3 separate regions of the Homo sapiens genome follow, and all the other regions are linked to region 2. Evidence: fine-mapped expression QTL. A gene starts in region 2. Each other region holds a variant in brackets. All regions are shown on one strand. Distances are from middle to middle. Region 1 overlaps RAB6B (RAB6B, member RAS oncogene family). Region 2 holds the start of RAB6B (RAB6B, member RAS oncogene family). Region 3 overlaps TF (transferrin).

Evidence for each region.
Region 1: its variant is fine-mapped to the expression of RAB6B in lung (TOPMed, PIP above 0.99).
Region 3: its variant is fine-mapped to the expression of RAB6B in esophagus mucosa (GTEx, PIP above 0.99).

Annotation. Positions count from the first base shown.
Region 1 is chr3:133,870,265-133,878,445 of GRCh38, forward strand. All of the region lies in intron 1 of RAB6B (RAB6B, member RAS oncogene family), which reads right to left. Among named protein-coding and RNA genes, the nearest start is that of RAB6B, 22 kb to the right of the region's middle. The variant C/A (reference allele first, on the strand shown) is at 3,666.
Region 2 is chr3:133,892,474-133,900,654 of GRCh38, forward strand. RAB6B (RAB6B, member RAS oncogene family) reads right to left here and starts at 3,409. Exons shown (of 8, transcript NM_016577.4): 1 at 2,924-3,409. The coding sequence starts at 2,993. RefSeq lists a silencer at 3,379-3,428.
Region 3 is chr3:133,753,075-133,761,255 of GRCh38, forward strand. It overlaps TF (transferrin), which reads left to right. Exons shown (of 17, transcript NM_001063.4): 3 at 521-629; 4 at 1,421-1,597; 5 at 2,289-2,421; 6 at 3,208-3,263; 7 at 3,757-3,935; 8 at 4,695-4,872; 9 at 6,101-6,255. Among named protein-coding and RNA genes, the nearest start is that of TF, 11 kb to the left of the region's middle. The variant C/G (reference allele first, on the strand shown) is at 4,503.

The sequences.
Region 1 (8,181 bases), 22 kb before region 2:
GATCTCATGAGACCTCACTATCACGAGAAGAGCATGGGGGAAACCGCCCCCATGATCCAATCACCTCCACCTGGTCCTGTCCTTGACACGTGGGGATCATGGGGATTACAATTCGAGGTAAGATTTGGGTGGGGACACTCTGCTACAGAATGGCCTACAGAAGCCAGACTAGGGGCAGAAATCTTGCCAGAGATGGAGGATCTCAGTGAACAATGCAGAGGTGGTGGGGCTGGAGAGAATGGGGAGGAGAGCAGGGTACAGGACCAGTGACTGGTCAGATTCAGAGAGGAGCCCAGAACTCCTCCCTGTGACCTGGGTTCATGACCATTAGATGCTAGAGCTATCCCCTGAGCCCAAGACAACTGGACAAGGAACAGACACCAAGCAATCACCTTGGATTCAGTCACTCATAAAAGCCTTCTTCATAATTGTCAGAGCAAAAGCACAAATGCCAGCACTGCATTCAGAAAAAACAATTAACAATAATCATTCAATCCCTTGTCCTAAAGATGTAAGCTTATTTTTCACTATTGGCATCAGCATGAAACAGTTATTTTTCTTACCCTAGTGAGAACTACTGGCCCAGGGGTCTTGCACATCCATGGGGATGTCCAGAGGAGCTTGGTCCCATGTACCCTGGAAATCCCACCAATGCAGGGTGCACTGGATGCTGGCCCTTCACAATCAGCTACCACTGCCTACCTGGACCTCACCAACAGGGGCCATTCACTCCACCAGTGCCCCATGGGCCCCAGGCCCCCATCTCACTGGCAGGTCCCAGGTAAACAGATTCTTGTACATTCTGGTGGTTTCTAGGTAGCTGCAGAGGCCAGTGAGGCTTCTCCAGCCACTCAGCAAACACCCACTGGGGCTCACTGTGTGCCAGTCCTGTTGTGCAGGGCACAGAATTTGTAGTGACAAAGCAGATGCACCTCTGGCCTCAAGCAGTCCATATCCAGTGGTGAAGTGAGACCCAGATCCAAATACTAAAATGCCAGGCAATACGGGAAGGGTCTCCTGAGAGGCCCATGCAAGGAAAGGCCGCTCTGCTGGGGAAATCACAGTAACCTCCTGAAAAAGGCACCATTTGGGCTGAGCCTTGATTGATGGAGATGAGGGGGTCACAGGGAACAACATTCCCGGGGAAGGGACTGGATGAAACGACAGTCATGTGAGGCTGAGATTCCTCTGCTTAAAATCATTTGCCCACATTTCTCCACAGCTGCCACGTGACGCCAAATCCACCCACAGCTTTGGGGCCAGTGGCTATGAGGACTTCTGGTCTTGTCTTGTGCCCACATCACAGTCTGAAAGCTGAGTGGGCAGTAAGTCCCCAGACTCCTCCACTGACACTGCCTCCCTCCACGAAGGACAGCTCTTCTCCCTGTCGCCTCCACAGCGGGTGTGGGTGTGGGTGGAGAGGCTGCTGTAAGGGCCAGAAACTGGGGAGAGCAGGGGGCAGAGCACAGACATTAGCCAGAGACTGCACGGAGGGTTTGCCAGGACCTGGCAGAAGGTGTACCACCCACTAGCTAGCCCCTCACAGAGCCAAGCCAGAACCCTGGCCCACAGTCTGCTCTCGGCTGTGCATCCACACTTACCACACACACCAGCTCTTCAGAGCTCCTGGCCAAACAGTGGGATCCTGATCCTCCTGGGGTCCACAGAGCTGGGCTCAGGGCCTAGGGCCCCAGGAGTTCCGGGAGGAGAGGGCAGGCAGGACAGATGTGGCATAACTCACTGCCATTTCTAAGCCATCTTGGTGGGCTGCCCACCTCTCAGATGCCTGTGTTTTCAGGAAATCAGTCCCTGAGCCAGGAAAAGAATCTCTGCATCCCCGGCCCACAGCCCCCAGCAGCCAGGCCCATTTCAGATAATGTCTGCAGCTTTCAGAAGGTGGTGCTCAGGGCTGAAAAGGCAAGTCTGCTTCCTCATTGTGCAGACCAGTAACCCAGTCCTAGCAGAGACCCGCTGACTCAGCCATCCCATCAGCTCAGTTTCTAGAACAGAAGTGGGAATTGCTGGTATAAATGCTAGGAAGGACCTGCAGAGGGACTCGGCCCTTGCCATGCAGCTGGGAAGGAGGCCAGGCTACCCGCATCCCTGCTGCACAGGGCCCTTGGGGTGAGGCCTGCACCATCCCTGTAACCTCTGCTCATAGTCTACCATTCCTGGCCTGACTGTGAGGTACGGCCCCCAGGCCCTGTGGTGACAAGTGAAACAGTTAGAGACACCAGCTATATCCATCTGAACCTTGTTTCCTTTGGCTCTGTTTTCACCAAACAGAAAGTCCAGCCCTATTCTTCCTCAAAGGTGGGTAAGCTTGGTAGCTGGGCTATCTGCTCCACACCCTACCCTGCCACCCTGGACTCCAAAAGGCAGCCCCAAACTGGGCATGCATCTTTGGCAGCTCCCACTAGAGCCCTGAGGGGCTGGCTGGCTCACCGTAGGCTAAATGAGGAAACACGTGAAAAACCCCATTTCAAACCATCCCCCAAAAGACTCAGATGGTAATTAAGAAATATGCAAAGCTCTTCATTGGACATTTTAATTAAGTGTGTTAATTCCCTCTGCTAGAGGACGCTCAGCCGCCTGGGCCTCACCCAGGGATCCAGAGAAGATGGAAAGGGGAGGGTAGAGGGGAGGGAGGAGTCAAAAGAAGGTGAGGGAGGGAGGGGTTAGCCAGACAGTGGCACAGGCTGGTCTGGCCCAGGCCCTTCTCCTGCACCAGCTAGGAGGCGGACCGATGCCTGACCCTCTCACTTCTCCACTGAGTGCCCCGTCTCACTATCCTGCACCCACCCCATCTCCTCTATCCAAACAGGGGGCCCAGTAAGCCTGCCCACTACAGCAAGAAGGAACAGGGCGAGTGCATCCTAAAGGATCCCATCCACGTAACAGTACATGGACAAGAGCAGAAAAAGGAAAGGCAAAATAAAGGTCCCTTGTCATCACGAAAACTAAGATTCTAGACAGGAGTGTTCCCAGGATGGCTGGTCCTCCAGCTCCTCCTGAACACTTTCAGCAGCTCTGTGGTTGCTGGGGACATGACGGTCTGCTGGGGCTCCACAGGGTGACTGGCTGGAGACTGGAAGATTTAGTCTCAGTTTTCCTTCCTATACCAACACCCTGGACCTCCTCCTGCTTTTTTTCCCCCAGAGGCTCCACCTTTAACACAAAGAGGCAAATTCCAGAGAAACATGCTGCCAGCACAGCTGGGCTGGGAGAGGCCCCATCCTCAGGTACCTGACCAAAGCCCCAGCCGCCACAGAGGAGGGCTCGGCCCCCTCTCCTGCCCTGCAAAAGGTGCTATCATCTTTGGTTTTCTTCTTTTCCTCTCTAGCTTCCTCTCTTCCTGCCTCTACCCCAAGGTTTACTGAGGTACAATCAATAAACAAAAAAATTTATATATTCAAGGTGTAAAATGTGACGTTTTAATATATAGAGAGTTGACCCTTGAAGAAGGCAAGAGTTGGGGCACTGATACCCTGCATAGTCAAAAATCCTCATACGACTTTTTAGTCCCACAAAACTTAACTATTATAATAGCCTACTGTTGACCAAAGCCTTCCTGATAACATAAACAGTTGATTAACAGGTATTTTGTGTTATATGTATTATATACTCTATTCTTAAGATAAGCTAGAGAAAAGAAAATGTTATTA[C/A]AATCATAGGGAAGAGAAAATAGATTTACTGTTCATTAAGTGAAAGTGGATCATCATAAAGGTCTTCATCTTCATTGTCTTTACGTTGAATAGGCTGAAGAGGAGGAGGAAGGGAAAGGGTTGGTCTTGCTGTCTCAAAAATGGCAGAGAAGAGGTGAAAGAGGTGGACAGGGAGGCAGGACAGGCAGGCACACTGGTGTGAATTTTACTGAAAAATATCTACCTTTAAGTGGATATGCATAGTTCAAACCCATCTTGTTCAAGGGTCATCCATCTATCTATCTATAGTCATGCTTTGCTTAATGAGAGGGATAAGTTCTGAGCAACGCATCATTAGGTGACTCTGTCGTAGTGCAAACATCATAAAGTATGCTTCCCAAACCTAGATGGTACAGCTTACTACACACCTAGGCTATAATGGTACCCTATTGCTTCTAGGCTACAAACCTGCACAGCACATTATTGCAGTGAATACTGTAGGCAATTGTAACTCAGTGGTATTTGTGTATCCAAACATATCTAAACAGCAAAGGTACAGTAAAAGTATGGTAAAAAACATAAAACATGAACAGAGCCATAGGACTGGAAGTCGTTCTGGGTGAGTCAGTCAGTGAGTGGTGAGTAAATGTGAAAGCCTATGACATTACACTACAATAGACTGTACATTTAGGCTACACTAAATCTATTTAAAAATATTTTTCTTTAATAATAAATTAACCTTAGCTCACTACAACATTTTTTACTTTATAAACTTTTTAACTTGTTTTAACATTTTGACTCTTTTGTAATAACACTTAGCTTAAAATACATACACTGTACAGCTATGCAAAAATTATTTCTTTATATCTTTATTCTATATGTTGTCTATTAATTTTTTTTTTTTTACCTTTTAAACTTTTTTTGTTAAAAACTAAGACACAAGCATACACATTAGCCTAGGCCTACATGGGGTCAGGATCACCAATATCGCTGTCTTCCACCTCTCCGTCTCCCACTAGAAGGTCTTCAAGGGCAGTAACACACACGGCGCTGTCATTTCCTGTGATAACAATACTGCTTTCTGGAGGTCCTCCTGAAGGACCTGCCTGAGGCTGTTTTACAGTTCCCTTTTTAAAAAAAGTGAGTAGAAGGTGTACACTCTAAACATAACAACATAAAGTATAGCATAGGCAATACTAGACAACAGGAATTTTTGAGCTCCATTATAATCTTATGGGACAACCTTCATACATGCGGTCTGTCGTTAACCAAAACATTGCTATGCAGCACATGACTATATATACATTGTGAAATGATTACCACAATCAAGCTAATTAACATATTCATTACTTCACAGTTACACGTGTGTGTGTGTGTGCATGTGTTAAGAATACTTAAGATCTACTCGACAAGACACAGACAAATATTGCATGATCTCACTTATATGTGGAAACTAAAAAAGTAGAACACATACAAGCACAGGGTAGAAGGGTGGTTACCAGGGGTCAGAGGTGGGGAAATGGAGGAAATGCTGATTAGAGGGTACAAATTTGCAGTTATAAGAGAAGTTCTGGAGACGCACTATACAGCATGGTGACTCCAGTTAATAATAATATATACTTGATATTTCCAGCTTTTCTTCTTCACTTTCCAAAGCCCCCAGGCCCAGCCTGCACATCAGTCTTGGCCTCAGCCCTTCCATACTCCCATAGAGCCTTATGAGCTCTCAGGACACTGCAAATCATCCCTGCCCTGGGGCTTCTAAACTGAGAGTCCACACCTGACTTGAGATTTCTTCTTGTCCCCCAGCCTGAAGCAGACACTCAGGGCACTAGGGACAATCCATTTCCCTACCTGCTACAGCCAAGTCTGCTGTGAGGACTAATGACTTGGGGTACATTGCCCACAGAATGCATCCCATTACCTTACCCTAAGAAACGCTGGTGCCAAGAGTCAACCCCAGCTTCAAAATCAGGCAGAGGAGAACCGAACGCACTCGTGTGGAGGGAGAGGCAGTACTATCCGGCATGCGACTACTGTGCACAAGGAGTACTTGTACTTATGACTCATGAAAATAAGATTTGAAAACGTAATTATTTAAAATAGTATCAGAATAAAGTAGCTATGTATCAATAACAATGAAAAGCCTCCCAATCCCTCTGAATACCCCTACTGTGTTTGGGGAGGTCCAAAACCATTCTCCCCAGTGTAGGAGCCTCCTCTGCAGCTATTTTGTAGGCAAATAACTGAGGCTTCTCCCAACAGATGTTCACGTAAGACTCTACCAGATTCAACTGACATGAATCTGGTGAGACTGAGAATTCCCTCTGTATTCTAAATTCAGGGGCAGCCATGACATGCATTTCAACATTGGCACCTGCCAGAACACAGCATAGGAGCTGTGTCTCCCCCGGACCAGTTCTATATGACTCGGGCTGCTGCTCCAAGCCCAGATCTCTGACCCTCCCAAGGATTCTATGAACTTCCCAATCATTCCTCTAATACATTCACTGCTTGCTCAAATCTGCTGTATAGAGAGAGTTTCTCTCTCTTATTCACAACTACAAATGCTGAGAGAGATAAAATATAAGGCAAAAGTTATGTAAGCTAAAAAGAGAAAGCTGGACCACAAATTTGCTTACAAAAAAAATCTTGAAAAATCTTCCCTAATTATTGAAGGTAGACTAAGAAACTGTCTAAGCTCCCTGGCAGTCAAAGGGGAAAAAAAGAAGCACAACCAAGGGTAAGATTCACAGTGTTCAGGAGATAAAACTATATCAATTGCCAATATTGAGCTTTTTATAAGAGCTGGGCAGCAGAAAGTTCTCAAAAAGAGTCTGGAGTGCAGAAATTTTGTTGCCACTTGGAGGGCAAGTCTACATATTTATACAATCAACTGGATGAACATCCCAGATGAAAATCAAGGCTGATAACCAGACCACGCAACACTGCCTGCCCAGACTGATGTTCCCTATAAACAAATGAATACACACACAAAAAAAAAAGGTCCCAAGACTTTAGCTCTGGTCAAAATGGAGTAACAGGGACCAGATTTAGCCTCTAACCTGAAACAACCAAAAGACAGACAAGATATATGAAACAACAATTTTCAAGCCACAGGATATTAGGTAATGATGACCCCTGAGATACATGAAACAGAGGAGGGGAGCCCCACAGATTACTGCCCTCAGAAAATTCCAGGCCACAGCACAGGGAGTGGGGACCCAGGTGAAACCCACTGGAAACCCTAGGTTGAAAGGATAGGGCTGAGGCTCAGAGAAAACACAGCAGCTAGAGTTCAGAAGATGGAATACCAGAGAGAGGGAGATGCAGAAAGGGAATGGCAGAGACCTGCAAAGGGTTTCCCTCAAGCCTTCGGCTGAGCACTGATCAGCAAATGTATATGAGGAAACTACTTGAGACTGGGGAAAGACTGCCCAAATGGACTAGAGGAAACAGTGCTTGGCATCCACACCAGGCTGGAGACTGTGCTCTTGCCCAGCAGCCAGAGTGGAAAGTCTCATCATTTACGGGATGCTGGGGAGAGTCCTCAGAAGGGCTGGGCCTCACAGTGGGTAATAATTAGCCATACACTGAGCCCTACTCTGGCCACAGCTAGCAAATCTTAAGAATATTTATAGGAACAGAAAAACTATCCACACACAACAAGGCAAAAATCACAATGTCTGGTATCCAATAAAAAATTATCAGGCATGTAAAAAAGCAAGAAAATAGACTCATAAAGAGCAGAAAAAACAATCAACTGAAACCAACCCCAAACTGACAGAGATGTTATAATTAGCAGATAAAGATATTAAGAAATAGTTATTATATATTATAACTGTTATATAATATATATTATATATAACTTAGTTATTATATATAGAATATATGCTATATACTATATGTTAGTATAATAACATATAGTATAATATGTTTAAGAAGTTACACGGGGTAAAAAATAGATTTTCAAAGACACAAATCAAACTTCCAGAGGTAACAACTACACTGGCTGACATGATTAAACAGATTAGATGTTGCAGAAGAAAAGATCAATGAACCTGAAGACAGTAATAAAAATTACCTAAAGTGAAACACAGTGAAAAAAGAATGACAATAAATGATAAGAACACCAGTAAGCTCTATGATAATGTCAAGTGGTCTAACATCCATGTAACTGGAGTCTTCAAAGGATGAAGGGAGAGGCAGTGACAGAAAAAATATTTGAAGAAATGACTGAAAATACTCCAAAATTAAAGAAAACTATACATCCACAGATTCAAAAATCCCAAGCACAGGAAACATAAAGGAAATTACAGCAAGGCACATCTTAGTCAAATTGCATAGTCAGTGACAAAAAAAATCATAAAAGTAGTCAGAGAAAAAAAGACACATTATGTACAGAGAAACAAACATAAAAAGGACAGTATATTTCTCCTCAGAAACAATGCAAGCAAGAAGGCAATGGTGCAATATCTATAAAGTACTGAAAGAAAAAAACCTGTTAACCTAGAATTCTATGTCCAGGGACAACATC
Region 2 (8,181 bases):
GATGTCCACCTGCGATTATCTGGCCCAGGGTGTGCTCCACACCCTGGTCCATGCACGCCACTCTTCTTGGGAATCCATTGCCCTTGCCCACCAGGCTAGAGAAATGCCACCATTATGCTAGGCACAGGAAATAAGATAAAGCCACATCCCTCCAGCTCCTTCCCCTGGCCCATCTCCAGGGCACTCGGCTCATATCGGCAAGCCCATGCTGCTCTGAAAGACTCCGCTGAGCTCAGCTGGCCCAAGTCCCCCATGCACAGAAGATAAGGGACCTCTGAGGTCATATAAAAAGAGCGAGCCAGGGCCAGCGTGAGGGCCAGCCCTCAGGTGGCTCTCTCCACTGCACAGGCTGCAGAGAATGCTGGCACAAATGACCAACAGATGCAAAACTGTGCAGGCAAGGTAGAAGAAGCGGCTGTGGAGGTGACTCCCCATCCCATAAGGCTTAGAGATGCACATACATGTCCCCTACCTAACTCAAAAGCTGTGTAAAACCTAAAAGAACCCACTAACAATGCAACAAATTGGAAACAGGCTTTTCAGGGCCTTGGGACTCCCTGACAGAAGGCACCAGGGTGGCCAGCAGCCCATCTCACTGATAGCAGTGACTCTCTAATGACCATGTTCCAAGGGCTCACAACCCTGCTCCTTACCAACTACTCAGCATTCCTACCAGTCACAAGCCCCAACTATAAGCCTGGCTGGACAGAAGCAACCCTTACTCCCTCTTGGGGAGGCTCCCCAGTTGTTGGCTTCCCCAATTCAAGGTCATCTTACTTCACAATGACACGCTAGTGAAAAATATTGGACTGGAAATGAGAGGTGGGGCTCCAGCCCAGAAGCATTAGCAACTCACAATGGGACTCTGGGACTCCAGGCAAGGCCTCCCTGTTCCCTGGGGCTCAGACTTCCCATTTGAACATATGGGAGAGGTGGTGGGTTCATTTCTTAGGCTTCAGCTCTCATTTCTGTGATTTTGGGAGCAAAGGGGGTCTGTGGAGCCCAGCAGGGGCCTCCGTTCATCAGGGATTCTGAAGGAGCCCAGATGTTCCCTCAAACTCACCAGAGACACTTTCTTCACCAAACTCCTAGTCCTTTCTGAAGCTTGTGCAGACTTAGAACAAATGTTTGCTGAGAACCTACCAGGGGCCAGGCACTTTGAGAGGCACTAAAGAAACATGAAGAAGTAAGAGAATTGTCTTCAAGCAACCATTTTTCAGAGACAGAAAGTGAGTCACAGAGAGGCCTCAAATTTTACTAAAGACAACACAGCTAAGAATTCAACCCCCAGGCTGCCTGATCCCTGCAGGTTATCTCCCAGGGCTCCAGGCCGGGTGAGACTAGCACTGGGATGTGAATACCACCAAAATCCCTTCCAGACACAGGGTATGGTCAGCTCTATGAAACTGGGATCTATTAAAAACAGGCAATCAGAATCCAGGGCAAACGCTGGCTGGCTGAGTGGATCTTCTTCTGAAATGCCCAGCCTGTCCCCCAAACCCATCTCCATACTGGGCCTGGACACTACCTTCTAACGTCCTTCTCTGAACCATCCATCTTAGGCAATGAGTATCAGCAGACAAGAGCCAGCCACGTGACCTCCATAACCCTCATGTACACACAGCACAGTAGCACTGTTCCTGGGCCCACCCAGTCCTCCCACAGCTGCCTTTCTTTTGGGCCCCCTTGTCAGAGAGGCACCAACCCAGGTGAACAGGACTGGTCTGCAGAGGCAGAGCTGGGGTCCTGTCCCGCAAGGACAGCCTTCTCCCAGAGCAGAGCTGACCAGAGCTCAGTTTGTCTCCCTGCAGCCCCATGCGAGAGGCCTCTGGAGGGATGCTCTGAAAGCCACTCCTTCCTACAGGTGGCAGAGGGGTCCCTGCCCTTCAATCTGGGCTTCCCGCCTCTAGGGACTAACCTGGTTTTCAGAGATGTTTTCCTGGGGAGGGAGCCGGGCAGCGGAGAAGCAGTCTCCCCCTCCCCCAGCTCTGGCCGACTGCCAGGGTGACCTCCCCTCCCCCAAGAAGGGCGGTGAGCTGGGAGGTGGGGGTGGGAAGAATCCACCGATGCTCTCTGGAGGAGTGCTGGGAAGCTAGGCAGGGCGTGTCGCCTGGGCCTTTCTCTGCCCAGAGCCAGACTTCACAGCCTCTCGGTGTGAGGTGCCCCTGTATCATTCCCCAAATCGCCTCGAGTTGGGGTAGCCCTCACTGCAATTGCCCAGATCCCTGGGCAGCAAGGAGACTAACAAGCGCCGGCGAAGGGCAGCGGGTCTAGAACCTTCTGTGCCCAGTCGGACGTGAGCCAGGGGAGGTAGGCTCCCCGTTCCCCCATGGCCTGCACTCGCTCTTTCGAGCAGAGACAGGTGTCGCTCTTTTCTCCCCGGTGGCTGTTTGTCCCACGCCCTGGACGTGCCCTTTCGCATGGTTCCCAGCAGGGTCCGCAGGGAACACCCCTCCAGTGCAGCGGAGTGAGGCCCGGCCAGACCCCAGCTTCGCTTCGTTCTCCAAGGGGGGCGCCCGTCGCTCTCCCCACCCCCGCCAGCACCCAGCCACCTGCGCGGTCGCCCGCAGCCGGTGCCGCAGTGTGAGCTAGCCAGCGAGCCCGGTTCCTTCACGCCCTGGCCAGCGCCGCGGAGCCAGCCGCCGCCCTCCGGGCCCCCTGCAGCGCCGCACCTGCACCCACACCCCGGGCCCCCCACCCAGAGCCCACCCTCACCTCCACCCCAGGCTCCAGCGCCTCCTCCGTCCTCACCCTTGGCCCCTCCCCAGCCCGACCCCGCCCCGACCTCCCCATCCCTGTCCCTCTCCTCTACCCTGGCAAGGAGGGGCCTTTCCGAGCCTGGGCCGGGGGTCCCAATGGGGTGGGCGATTGGGCGGCGGGGGTCGACTCGGCGACAAGCCAAGAGATTAAGCCGGGTACTTACCGCTCTGCTCCCCCAAGAACACCAACTTGAATTTTCTCAGTGGATTCCCAAAATCTCCCCCTGCGGACATGGTGCTGGCAGCCGGGGCCGGGAGAGGAGGAGGAGGAAAAAGCGAAGGAGCAGGGAGGGGAGAGTAGGAGGGCGAGGGGAGGCGGCCGGCGGTGCGGGAGCCGGAGGGGGAAGGGCTGGCTGCGCGCGTCCCTGACTCCCCAGCTGCGTCCCGGTCCCGGCCTGCGGCTGCGTGTCCGGCGGCGGAGGAGGAGGAGGAGAGAGAGGCGGAGGCGGAGGAAGGCTGGGGCTGGGCTGCTGCGGTCGGCACTGGCTGCGGTGCGAGGGGCGCGCTCTTTACGCCCGAGGCGCGGCGCTGGGAGAGAGGCGCGGGCGGAGCGGGGCGCAGGGACGGCGCGCGGGGCGGAGGAGCGCTCTCCAGAGCCGCGCCAGTCGGCCCCCTCCCGCCTGCCTCCTCCGCCGGCGCCTGCGCTCTGTGCGCTCCCCAGCCTCTGATGTCATGCGGGGCCCGCGGGGCTGCGGGGCTGGGGGGCGTGCGCCCGCCCACCCGAGCCCGCACCCGGGCAGGAGAGAACCTCCTCGCCGTACCCCTGAGAGCCCCCCGGGGGGGACCGTGTCTCGCTGCCCCGCTGCGTCTGTCTTCCCCACTCTACCCCTCTTTTGAATCCAGAAAATGACAGAAATTGTCAGGGGACATTTGTTTCTGGTCTTTTAAACCTAGATGCCAGTCCCTTCCTCCACCTCGCGAGACACCGATGCACAGCGCAGTCGTCCGACCGACAGGGCGGAAAGGAACGAAGGTGGGGGAGAGCCAGGGTGTGGCGAGGCCCGTCAGGGCGGTCAGACCTAGGGAAACCTGGCGTACTTGGCGCAGATGGGGCTCGACTCTTGCCCCCCGTGGCTTCTAGCCCGCCCTTCCCTCTCGAGGCCTAGACCCTTTATTTGGGCGGCCTCTTGTGGAGTCTGTGGGTGCCCCCGCAGACCTGGCCAGCGAGAGAGGAGCTGCCAATATCAGGCGCGCCTACCTCAAACCAGCTGCTCATTTGGATCATTTTATGCCAAATCCTAACCTGCCCCATGGGAGAGAAGGAACGGTGACGCTCTGAATGCCAGTGCCACTATCTCCAGGACAGTGCCCTGCGTTTCTTGATCCCGGGGTCGCCAGGCTGACAATGCCACTCCCCACCCTGGCAATTAGGTGTATCTGGACAATGAGCTATCTGAGGACATGTGGGCGACCTCTCCTTGGCCTCTACTTGCCTGGTCCATCGAGGCACACAGACCAAGTTGTGAGTGAGTGAGAGCAAAGAGCAGACGCCAAGTGCTAGAAACACTCCCAAGACAGCCCGAGCCTAAGGCATGCTGGTTAATTGAGGTTTTACAAAGCTGTCCCTTACTGTTCTGCCACAGCGTGGTCTTGTTCATTTATGGCTGTTCAGTGAGCATTTATTTGAGATAATAATCTGCATGTCGGTGAACACGATGGTGTGTGCACGCATGTGTTATAGAAAGAGAAAGAGGAGTGAGACACAACCTTCACCTCCAGATTTCTCGTGGACACTTGTTACCCCCTTTTTGACTTATGGGGCTTGCTTGGGCAAGCCTATCTGTCTCCCTGGTGTGCTCACCTCGAATCTCTTTCCTATTTCTTGTTAGAAACCTGACCACAAGTTCCATAAAAGCAGTAGTTGAAGCTCCACCACTGCATCCCAAGGACATAGCTCAGAGTTTAAGAAATAGTTGTTGAATGTTTGAATGAACATCTAGAACTCAAATCAAAATAACTGTCCTATTCTCATAATTACCTTTAGTTTGGAACCCCAGGGATTGTAAGTCATCACCTAGAATATCTGCCCCGTTGTGGCTGGCACCAGGCTCAGGGTAACCCTCCAGACACCCACCCACTTCTCTGGGGCTCCTGCTCTCTTAGGAGACCATATCCAGCTTGGGGTTGAAGAAAGCTCTGAAAGGAGAGGAGACTCCCAAGTCACAGCCCTTCCCGTCTCTATAAGTGATCCCTCCAAAGAAGGGCCAGTGAGCTACTGGCCAAGGTACCCAGCCATGCAACACTCCTCCAACCTGCACCTTCTCCTAACATCTAGTGCTGTCTCCCTGTACCCTCTCATCCTGACCTGATGAGATCATCGGTGGCAAGACAAAACAGCTGAGGTGTGCCAGAAAAGGCACCATCTTTTGGGTAAGCCTAGGCAGGTCCTGTACCTCCTCTGATCATCTGGTCCCGCACATGTAAGGTGGTATGGCAGTAGGGGAGGGAGGGCTGGGGCAGGGCCCCTCTGGGCACCTCTAAGCCTCCAAGTCATCCCATATGCTTACCAGGTCCAGCTGGGCTGACTATGGTCCAGCTTACTTTGGGGGACTCTGTCATAATTCTTCCAGTTCAAATGACAAAAACCCGGCTCCGACTACCGGGCTCACGTCGCTGGAGCAGATACTGGCATTGCTCTCAGAATGCAGTCATCATGCTGTGGAAATGAGAGCCTTAGAGACTCCAAGTTTGCTCTGCTCCAAGTCTCTCTCCTCCAACTATCATTGCTTATCTCCCCTGATTTTGAGTCTTGTCCTTAACCTGCCCTAAAGCAGACAGACTTTCTCCAGGTGGAAAATGGGGCCACTGAACCTCAGCCTGGCAACCTCACTAGAAAGAGTTTCTTCCATATCATAGAATCTGTGCATTCCATTTAAAAAAATTCTTTAAATCTTCCTATTTAGTATGTGCTGTGTATATGTAAGTTACAAAGAAAACCTATCACTCTGAGTGCCCATTTACCCTCTACACAGCTGGAGGGCTCAAATATTATAGTACTTTTCAGGCCCCCAGGTGCTTTCTTCTCCTTCCTCCCTCCCCAACTTGGAAATCCAGAATCTTAGCTTTTCTTTGAGTTTTATCACATTGGATGTGTCCTTCACAATACTTTGTTTTGTTTTGCATCTTTTGAATCTTATATAAGGTATCAAACTGTGTTTTCTGTCCTGACTTGCATGTTTCTTAACATCATGTTTCTGAGATCCATTTGTTAATTCATGTAGCAGCAGTTCTTTCATTTTCACTGCTGGTTAGTATTCTAGTTATGCCCCAATTTTTAAATGATTTTCTGTAAAATGTGTCATTTAAAATTTTTATTTTATTTTATTTTATTATTGTTGTTATTATTTTTGAGATGGAGTCTTGGTCTGTCACCAGGCTGGAGTGTAGCGGCGCCATCTCGGCTCACTGTAACCTCCGCCTCCCAGGTTCAAGCAATTCACCTGCCTCAGCCTCCCGAGTAGCTGGTACTACAGCCACGCACCACCAGGTCTAGCTAATTTTTTTATTTTTAGTAGAGCCGAGGTTTCACCATGTTGACCAGAATGGTCTCAATCTCTTAACCTCGTGATCCGCCTGCATCAGCCTCCCAAAGTGCTGGGATTACAGGTGTGAGCCACCACGCCTGGCCTTTTTTAAAATTATTTTAAATAATTTTATACTCACATAGAGGTTATAAAAAACAGTGCAGGGAGTTACTATGTATCCTGCACCAAGCTACCCCAGTGATAACATCTTACATAACCACATTGCTTAGTAAAACCAGGAAATTAACATTGGAAAATGCACTCAGTTTTGTTTCTGCTATTAACAAACAATGCTGCCATCAACATTCTTTACATGTCTCTTGATGCCTCTGTGAAGTTTTTCTAAGATATGTGTCAGTAGGTAAATTGTGGTATAAAAACAAGTGTACGTTTAATTTTGTGCCAAACTATTTTTCAAAGATATTCGTTAGATCATATAGCACTACAGCATCATCTATATTTTTCATTTTCTTCAAGATCTTGGTTTTCCTGAGCCCTTTGCTGTGTTATATATATATATATATATATTTAAATTAAATTTTTGAGATCATTGTAGATTCACAAACAGGAAAAAAAAAAAAGACAGATCTGTATATCCTTTATCTAGTTTTCACCAAGAGTAAGATCTTGCAGAACTTTATACTACAGTATCATAATGTGGATACTGGAATTAAGACAGTCAAGGTACATTTCTGTTCTGTACCTTGACACACAAAGAGCCCTCATGTTCCCCTTTTATAGCCACACCCACTTTCCTCCCACCCTCAACCCCTTCCTAACCTCTGGCAACCACTAATCTGTTCTTCATTTCAATAAATGTGTTATTTCAAGAATCTTATATAAGTGGCATTACACAGTATATCACCCTTTGGGATTGTTTTTTTCACTTCACCTGGCTGGAGCACTCAAATATTACAGTACTTTTGAGGCCCTCAGGTGTTTCTGCCCCTCCCTCTCTCCCCAGCTTGAAAATCCAGAACTGTGGCTTTTCTTTGAGTTTTTATCACATTTGGATGTGTCCTCCAACAATACTTTTTTGTTTTGCATCTTTTGAATTTTATATAATGTCTCAAACTGTATATTCTGTCCTATGACTTGCATTTTTCTTAACATTATGTTCCTGAGATCCATCTGTTGATTCATGTAGCAGCAGTTCTTTCATTTTCCCTGCTGGTTACTATTCCACTGCATGTCCTATTTTTTTTTTCACATAATTCTATGGAGATTCACCCAGGTTATTGTTTGTAGCAATAGTTAGCTCCCTTTTACTGCTGAGTAGCATTCAATAGTATGGACGTACAGTTTGTTTAACCACTCACCTGTGGAAAGGCATCTGAAATTATTTCCAGTTTGGGGCCATTACAAATAAAGCTGTTATGAACTATCATGTAGAGATTTTTGTGTGAAAGGAAGTTTTTATTTCTCCAGGATAAATGCCCAGGAGTGCACTTGCTGGGTCATATGCATGTTTGTTTTTTAAAGGAACTGCCAGACTTTTCCAGAGTGGTTCTACCACTTTCCACTCCCCACCAGCAATGGATGAGCGATCCAGCCTCTTCTCACCCTCATCAGCATTTGCTGTTGTCAATATTTTAAGCCATTATGAGAGGAATGTAGTAATATCTCATTGTGGGTGGTTTTAATCTACATTTCCAATGACTAATGATGTTCAACATATTTTCATGTGATTAATTGCCATCTGTATATCCTCTTAATGAAATGTCTGTTCATGTCTTTTGTCCATTTTTAAATTAGATTCTTTTCTTTACTGTTAAGTTTTGAGAGTTCTTTATGTATTCTAGATACTAGTTCTTTGTCAGATATGTGATTTACAAATATTTTTTCCCACTCTGCTGGAGTGCAGTGGCACAATCATGGCCCACTGCAACCTCAAACTC
Region 3 (8,181 bases), 140 kb before region 2:
AGAAGCACCTGAGGAAGACCTCAAAGGAAGTCTCAAAATAAAGAGGGCTCTGAGCAAAGGTCATGGGCTAGGAATGAAAACAGGTGTAAGAAGAGCGTGGCCAGCCCAAGAGAGCTGTGTCCTTGACAGCAGAGTCCCCTCCAGAGACTGCATTGCACTGGCTGTGCTCTGAGTCTGGGGTGGCGAGGGCGGCTTTCTCCCACGGAGCCTGCCAGGTTAAGCCTTCGTAATTGCCTACGGTAAAGTCACGTAGGATTTTTGGCCAGGAGCTGGGCACCTCACCGGGGAAAAGAGAAACACAATCCATCACTCCCTCTATGCAGAAGGAATAGGAATGTGGTGGCTAAGTGCCCTTGCGAGGGAGACAGAGTCAACTGAAGCCAGCAGGGCTGTGCGTGGTCTAGTCAAGTTCTGGCCCTGGGTCCGTGGAGTCCTGGTAGCCACTCTCTACTTGTGTGGGTTGAGGTGGGCCTTCCTTGGAAGTCAAGGCTTCATCCAGGACTGGCCTGTTCTCTTTCAGGCAAACGAAGCGGATGCTGTGACACTGGATGCAGGTTTGGTGTATGATGCTTACCTGGCTCCCAATAACCTGAAGCCTGTGGTGGCAGAGTTCTATGGGTCAAAAGAGGGTAAGTTCTCCCTGGGACCCCAGGAAGGAGTTGTCATCCTTATTCTATATGCTGAGTGCTGTGTTTTACAGGCAGGTTTTGGATATCAGATATAATGAACATTCATCTTTGGAGAGTGAGTAGAGAATGAGGGGCCCTGTCAGCTGCCACAGCCACACATCAAGGCCTCTGGGGGCTTTGGGCTGGCTGAGGACTGGTGCTCCTAAAACTGAGCCCTGGGCCAGGGGCATATGCTTATCAGAGAAACACAGCAGGCTGTGTGCAGCTTGACCTGAAGGCTACTGCGGTCTACTGATATGTCTAGGGTCCCTGGAGGCCTCTGGAGCCATAGGTACCACTCACACAGGAGGGGTCACTCTGGAGCACACACTCAGAGGCCAGCAGCCCTGCAAGTCTTCTGAGATCAACCTGACTGTCTCTGGGCCTGTGCCAGGGGACATGAAATACTTTGATGGGCCTCTGTTACCACAGCTCCAGTTTCCTGGTGGCTGAGGTTGGTAGGTGTAGGCAGACACGCTGCAGGGCCAGGGGAGGCAAAGCATTCAGGACACATGTGCGTGTGGCCTTCTTGCCCCTGTTTGCCTGGAGGGGTAATATTATAAATATTCCTTCTATGGTCTTCTCTCTCCCCTGCAACCCTAGGAAGGTTTTCCTGATTCCCCACTCCTTATCGCCCAGTCCAGTAAAAGCATGGCCTCTCCGCTCCCCTCCCTCCTCAAGAGTCCGGTGGTGATGAGCCATGTTTCCCTGCACCAGGCTGAGGGCCTTCCATTCACACTGTGCCTTTGCAGATCCACAGACTTTCTATTATGCTGTTGCTGTGGTGAAGAAGGATAGTGGCTTCCAGATGAACCAGCTTCGAGGCAAGAAGTCCTGCCACACGGGTCTAGGCAGGTCCGCTGGGTGGAACATCCCCATAGGCTTACTTTACTGTGACTTACCTGAGCCACGTAAACCTCTTGAGAAAGGTAAGCTGGCAGGAGTCTGGGTGCCCTCGAGCAGCTGCCTCTGCTCCAGATGCCCACACAGGCTGCACTAGACAGTCACCATCAGCAGACATGTGGGATGAACTCAGGTGGGGGAAAGAGGTTAACAGACTTTAAACTGGCAGGTCTGCTGCACCAGCAGCACTTGGGAGGTGGAGCTGAGCTTTTTTCTGCTCTGAGCTTCCAAAACCCCAGCAGAGGCTGTTCTGATGAGTGAGGAAAGGGCGCAAGGCTCGGCAGAGGGTTTCAGTCTAGGCGATGGTGGTTCTCTTGTCCACTTCTCTGGATTTCTTTCCTGGAGGTTTCTCTGGAGCCCTGCACCTCTCTTAAGCAGTTCTCATGTCTGGGGCATGGATCCCAGAGGGGACCTCTCTCTGAGCTGTTCCAGCCTCTGACAAAGCAGGGAGAAGGTGCTCTGAGAAAGACCCGAGATAGGCCTTGGTTAGTGGGAAGCATAGGCCTGTTTCCTCTGATGGATGGTGGCCAGACAGAGGTCAACTTGTTCCTATTAGAAATCCTTGATCTTGATGAGTTAGCATAAGGGCAAGCTGGGGCTGCATGTGCTGGTTTGGTTTTAGTCCCCTCTGTTCCCTGATGGGCCTGGGTGGGGTGATGCCATTGGCTGTGGCCAGCCTCACTCATGCTCTGTTGTCCATTTCTCTGTGCTGAGCAGCAGTGGCCAATTTCTTCTCGGGCAGCTGTGCCCCTTGTGCGGATGGGACGGACTTCCCCCAGCTGTGTCAACTGTGTCCAGGGTGTGGCTGCTCCACCCTTAACCAATACTTCGGCTACTCGGGAGCCTTCAAGTGAGTGAGATGTCTGCTGCTCCATGGTGGCCAAAGTGCCAAATGTCCTCAGGGTGAGAGTTCTTTGCTGGTCCAAAGCCGAGCCCTGCCTGCCTACAGGGGCATCGAGGTGGCCTAATCCCCTCCCAGTGAGTCAGAAGCACAACCTGGGACTCCTAGGCCAAGCCAGCCCATGTTCCCTTTCATCTGACCCTGACAAGTAGGTCCTTTTCCTGGGGACCCTTCCTTTCTCCCCAGAGCCCTCAAGCCTGGTCAGTGTCTCCTCTCGGTGGATCGGGCAGAGCCTGAAAGGACAATCATGCCTCTAGTGTCTGGGCCCACTGTCCAGGGACTGGCCCTCTTCCCTCAATCTCAGCAGTGTTACCTGCTCAGCACACTGCCTGTCTCCTGCCCCCATCACCGTCTCTATCTGGGAAGCTGATTTCTTGCTTTCTCTTTTTACCTTGATTATATCCTAAAGTTTTACAACCAGCCAAAGGCACATTTTCACCCTCAGGAGACACTATACCATTATCTTCTATTCCAGAAGTTTAAAAGCTCTTTTCACATGAAAATATCTTCAGTTGCATTTTGCTTCTTTGGGTTATGAGGGCTTTTTATCTCGTGTGAGCTCATTCCCCCATCTCAGCACTACGCTGGAGGTCTGCACACCATGGTGTTGCTTCAGCTACGGGGCTGCACCAGGCTCTATCCTAGTGTGAGTGCTGGACAGTGTGATCAGACTCTCCAGGTGCAGGAGAAGGGCCTGCCCTGCAGGAGCCCTGCTGATGTGTTTCTTTGACCCAGGTGTCTGAAGGATGGTGCTGGGGATGTGGCCTTTGTCAAGCACTCGACTATATTTGGTAAGAATGGGACAAGAATCCACCAGGGCCACTCCAAGTAGTGGGTGTTCTTTTTCTGTGTTCCCTTTTTCATGCTCAGTAATTGGAAATGAGCATACTGTATTTCTCCTTTATCATTGCCTGGGTTTCCACCTGTGCAGAGTTAGGTACCTACGGGGTCCCCATCTGGATTCCTGGGCCTCTTTCCATCATTCAATCTCTCCACACGGTGCCTCTGCCTCTGGGGTAGTGTTGCCATAACCAAAGACTGGGGGTTGGTGCTGCTAAGATCAGGCTCATGGTGGAATGAGGAGCAATCACTGCTACATGGGCATCAGAAGCCTTTACCTGGCTGTGGGCTCTTGAGCGAGTCATTCTCCCGCATGTTCTCTGGCCTTCAGTGCTCACTCCAGACCTCTCAGCTCATACTTTCTATGATCAATTGAATTTCAAGGATGGGCACCACAGCCCATGGCTCTCCTGTGTTAAGCTCACCTGGGCTTTCCCTCCCCAGAGAACTTGGCAAACAAGGCTGACAGGGACCAGTATGAGCTGCTTTGCCTGGACAACACCCGGAAGCCGGTAGATGAATACAAGGACTGCCACTTGGCCCAGGTCCCTTCTCATACCGTCGTGGCCCGAAGTATGGGCGGCAAGGAGGACTTGATCTGGGAGCTTCTCAACCAGGCCCAGGTATCCCCACCTGCCATCCTCCCCTCCAGCTTAGTGCTCCCTGCTTGGATTTGGGGGTTTTCCTCCTGGCCATCTTGTCACTCTGGAAGTCTGTGTGTTCAGGATACAGTGGGAGCCATGCCACATGTCACTAAGTTCTCTAAAAGCTGGGACTCCCCACAGAGCAGCAGGGAGCCTGCTGTGGTGCTACCGTCTGCCGCCCTTGCCTTTCTGGCTGGTGACACCTGAAGAGGCTCTGTATTGCTCTGTTGCATTCCTTTCTACCTAAACTTCAAGGCCCAAAGCTAAACCCCTCCCCAAGGAGGCTTTCCATGACCCTCCCAGAAGGAAATGGTCTCTCTCCCCATGCCCCTCAGCCCGGCTGTGAGGGGGCTGCCTGCACAGCGGCTTTACTTCCCAAGAGCTGTGTGATTTGGGCTCAGCCAGCTTCCTCTTGCCGAGCCGTCCCATCTGTCCACTGAGAGTTTGACTGGTAACCACACAGGGCAGCCTCTGGATTAGCCACGTTTCTTGTTCTCACCGATGTCTCAACCCGTTCCGGGAGACAGGCACAGAAGCAGGTTCAGG[C/G]AAATCGCGGACCCACGAGGGCTACAGGCAGAGGAAGTGCTGGGTGAGCAGGAGCAGGTCCGACTGCCCTCTCTCCTGGCATCTTGAACTTTTTCATGTTGTTTCCTGCAGAGATTTCTTTTCTCTTCAGTCCCATTTCTCAGCCTCCTTTCTTCTGTGTTGCCATCCACTATTCTGTTTTTCTATGAACAGGAACATTTTGGCAAAGACAAATCAAAAGAATTCCAACTATTCAGCTCTCCTCATGGGAAGGACCTGCTGTTTAAGGACTCTGCCCACGGGTTTTTAAAAGTCCCCCCCAGGATGGATGCCAAGATGTACCTGGGCTATGAGTATGTCACTGCCATCCGGAATCTACGGGAAGGCACATGTGAGTACCTGGGAAGAACCAGGTGACCACAAGCACTTGGGAAACCTGGTGAGCACAGGGGCCAGAGATTGAGTCTTTTCAGGGACCTGCACGCCTCTCCTGATGCTCCTTTTTCTGACCTGTCTGTGAGCCCAGTGTTAGACTGATGCTGAATGGCGTTAGTCATTATGAGATGGCCTTGATGTCACCATGGGCTTTACAGGAAATCCACATTTAAAATGACGTGGGTTGGTTCCAGTATTTCCTTTGCATCAATCAGGACTGCCTTACCTACTCTGTGAAGGCAATTAGCTTATCACAGAGTAAGTGAAATAGAACAAAATTGCTATATATTGCACATCTCCAGCCAGTCAACATGTACCATAATGAAGAGGTGCTCTAAGAGAGGTTGATCCCAGTCCTGGATTTCACTGAGTCACTGTGGTTTTGCTTGACCATTCATTTATTCAGCAGACATTTATTGAACATCTAGCCATATGCTCTGCTAGGTGCTGGACATAGGATGGCATGACAAATATATATTTGATTCTGTTGTCCTGGAAATTTCAAACTGGGGAGAAGATAAATGTTTAATGAATAGTCATGCTATTGGATGATGAATTACAAAGTAAGAGATATGTTTAAAAGGGGAAAAATATGACAACAAAATACCATGGCCCTATGAGACTGCAAAACAAAGAAAAATAGGCCCTGGACTTGGCGTTAAGGCAAAGCTTCCTTGAGGAAGTGACTCTTGAGCTCAGTCTGAAAGATGAGCAGATGTACATTTATTCATCAGACATTTATTATGCTGACCATGTGCTAGCATTGCCCTAACCCTGAGGATGCCCTGGTGAACAAGACAGGCAGGGCCCTTTCTGTGTTGGAGCTTCTGTTCTCCTGCAGAAAACCTGACAATAAACAATGAACATATAAATAAGAACACCTCCAGTAGTTAAGTGCTATCTGAAAAACAAGAAGGAAAAAAACAGCCAGAGGTCATATAGTGCCCAGAGGCTGGAGAGGAAAGTTGGCTTCTCGGAAGACATAAAAAACTAAATTTAAATGAGAAGTCAACCAAGAGATTGTGCATTGACTTTGCTTTCTAAGGTGATTAATTCCTTGAATGGGGTCTGTTTGTTTATTGCTGGCAAATCCCAGCATTTGCATGAAGACAGTGAGTAGTGCTGACAAACACCAGGCAACAGCTAGGGCCGCTTCTGATCTTTGTTCTTTTTTTATGCCATAGGCCCAGAAGCCCCAACAGATGAATGCAAGCCTGTGAAGTGGTGTGCGCTGAGCCACCACGAGAGGCTCAAGTGTGATGAGTGGAGTGTTAACAGTGTAGGGAAAATAGAGTGTGTATCAGCAGAGACCACCGAAGACTGCATCGCCAAGATCATGGTATGTCACTCCAGCCTTCCTAGGGCAGCGTCCCTGTCATTGCTGCCTGCTGGCCCCCAAGACTGAGCTAGGGAGTGTTCCTGGGAATGATGCAAAAACCTGGCTCCCAGGAACCTTGCCCTGACTATGTGAGCACAGCCCCACCGGAGGTTCAGAATCTTTGAGCTTGTGGATCTGAAGGGTGCCCACAGGGCTCAGTTTCCTCCTTGTATGAGTGTATGGTGAAAGGGCAGGCTGAGCAGTGCCTGCTTAGGGAGGCTGGACCATGGTGTGGGTGTCCTGAGACCAGTGGTGTGCCACGATCACTGAGATAAGATCCTGAGTACATGGTAGGATCCAATCAGGTACAAATTTGCTTTGTTGATCAAAAGAGTATCCTAGCCTGGCATGGTGGCATGCACCTGTAGTCCCAGCTACTTCGAAAGCTGAGGCAGGAGGATTGCTTGAGCCCAGGAGTTCAGGGCTAGCAACTTAGCAGGACCTTGTCTCTAACAACATTTTTTTTTTAAGAAAGAATATTCCATGTTGGCTTACAGAGAATTTTTAAAATCCTGAATGATATAAAGAAGAAATAAAAAGTACTTATAATCATGTAATTCAGAGAAAATTCCCTTATTGGGATCATTTCATGTAGGTTGCTTGCTACCTTTTACTCACTCACAGTATCTAGTAAGCTTTTCCCATATCATAAATCATTCTTGTAAAACCTAATCTGGAGCTTCTGTGTTAGTGCACACATCGAGATGGGGGAGTATGGTTTGCCTAGAGAGAACATGAAGTGCCAAGCTCCACTCCCCCTCCTCCCCACATTTCTTGCCCTCTGTGTCTCTTCCATTTGGCTATTCTTGAGTTGGATCCTTTATAATAAATCAGCAAATATATTGAAACAAAGATGCATATTATAAAGGTACTTCCTGCCATTGTCAACAGATTTTTGCTGAAATATGTTAATTCTACTTTTTGAGCACTTATGAATAACCATGTATCTTCAGAACTATCTACCATGAAGCAAAAAGGGACCATCAAGCTCATTATTTTATATTTCATACAATTTATAGATATCACTTTATGCTATTTTAACATATATTCCATTTTAATTTTTGTCTGAGTCAAGACAAGAAAAACCAAACTAAGTTAAAGCAAAGCCTACAAATTCAAAACCTGAGTCTATACAAATCTGTTAGCAGTTTGAGTGGCTGGGCTTCAATATTATACTCTGGATGTGATACAATAGATAAAGTTTTTTACGTCTGTAAAAAAAAGGAAGAGCAAAAGACTCTTGGGAACATGTGAAATCTTAAATGAAGATTAAGTACAACCAAATGTAAACATATTTTAAAAGGTTCTTCTTGGACATCATAATTTGCTCTCCTATGAAGATGTCATCGTTTGAGCCTTTAATGTTGGAAATAGCTTACAGATGTTGGGGCAGAAACCAAAGACCAACATTGCCATGTTCTGTGAGACCACGTCCAAGTGGATGATTGCTGGATAGGTATGTTTCATGCATAACATTTAGTTCATAAAATTATATGCTACTTTAGGAGGTCCAGGGCCCATGGATTAATGAAACAAAAGTAACTAATCTCATTGCTAGTAAAGAATTATTGGAAACAAAGTTGAAAGACATAGTTTATTTGGTCCCACACCTGTGACACATCATCACTGTCAATGGGAAGCCACTGACCTGTCCCAATTTCCCAAGGTTGTTATCATGGACATCATGGCTGCAGTAGAAAGTGAAGGTGAGTGTGGAAAACAGATCCCAAAGTGACCAGTGCCCTCGGTTATTGCAGTAATCATGTTCATGAGTAGACACACAGGACTTCCAAAGGGAGTCATCATCTCGCATAGAAACATCATTACTGGTATTACTGGGATGGCAGAAAGGATTCCCAGACTGGAGGAGGAAGATGACTACATTGG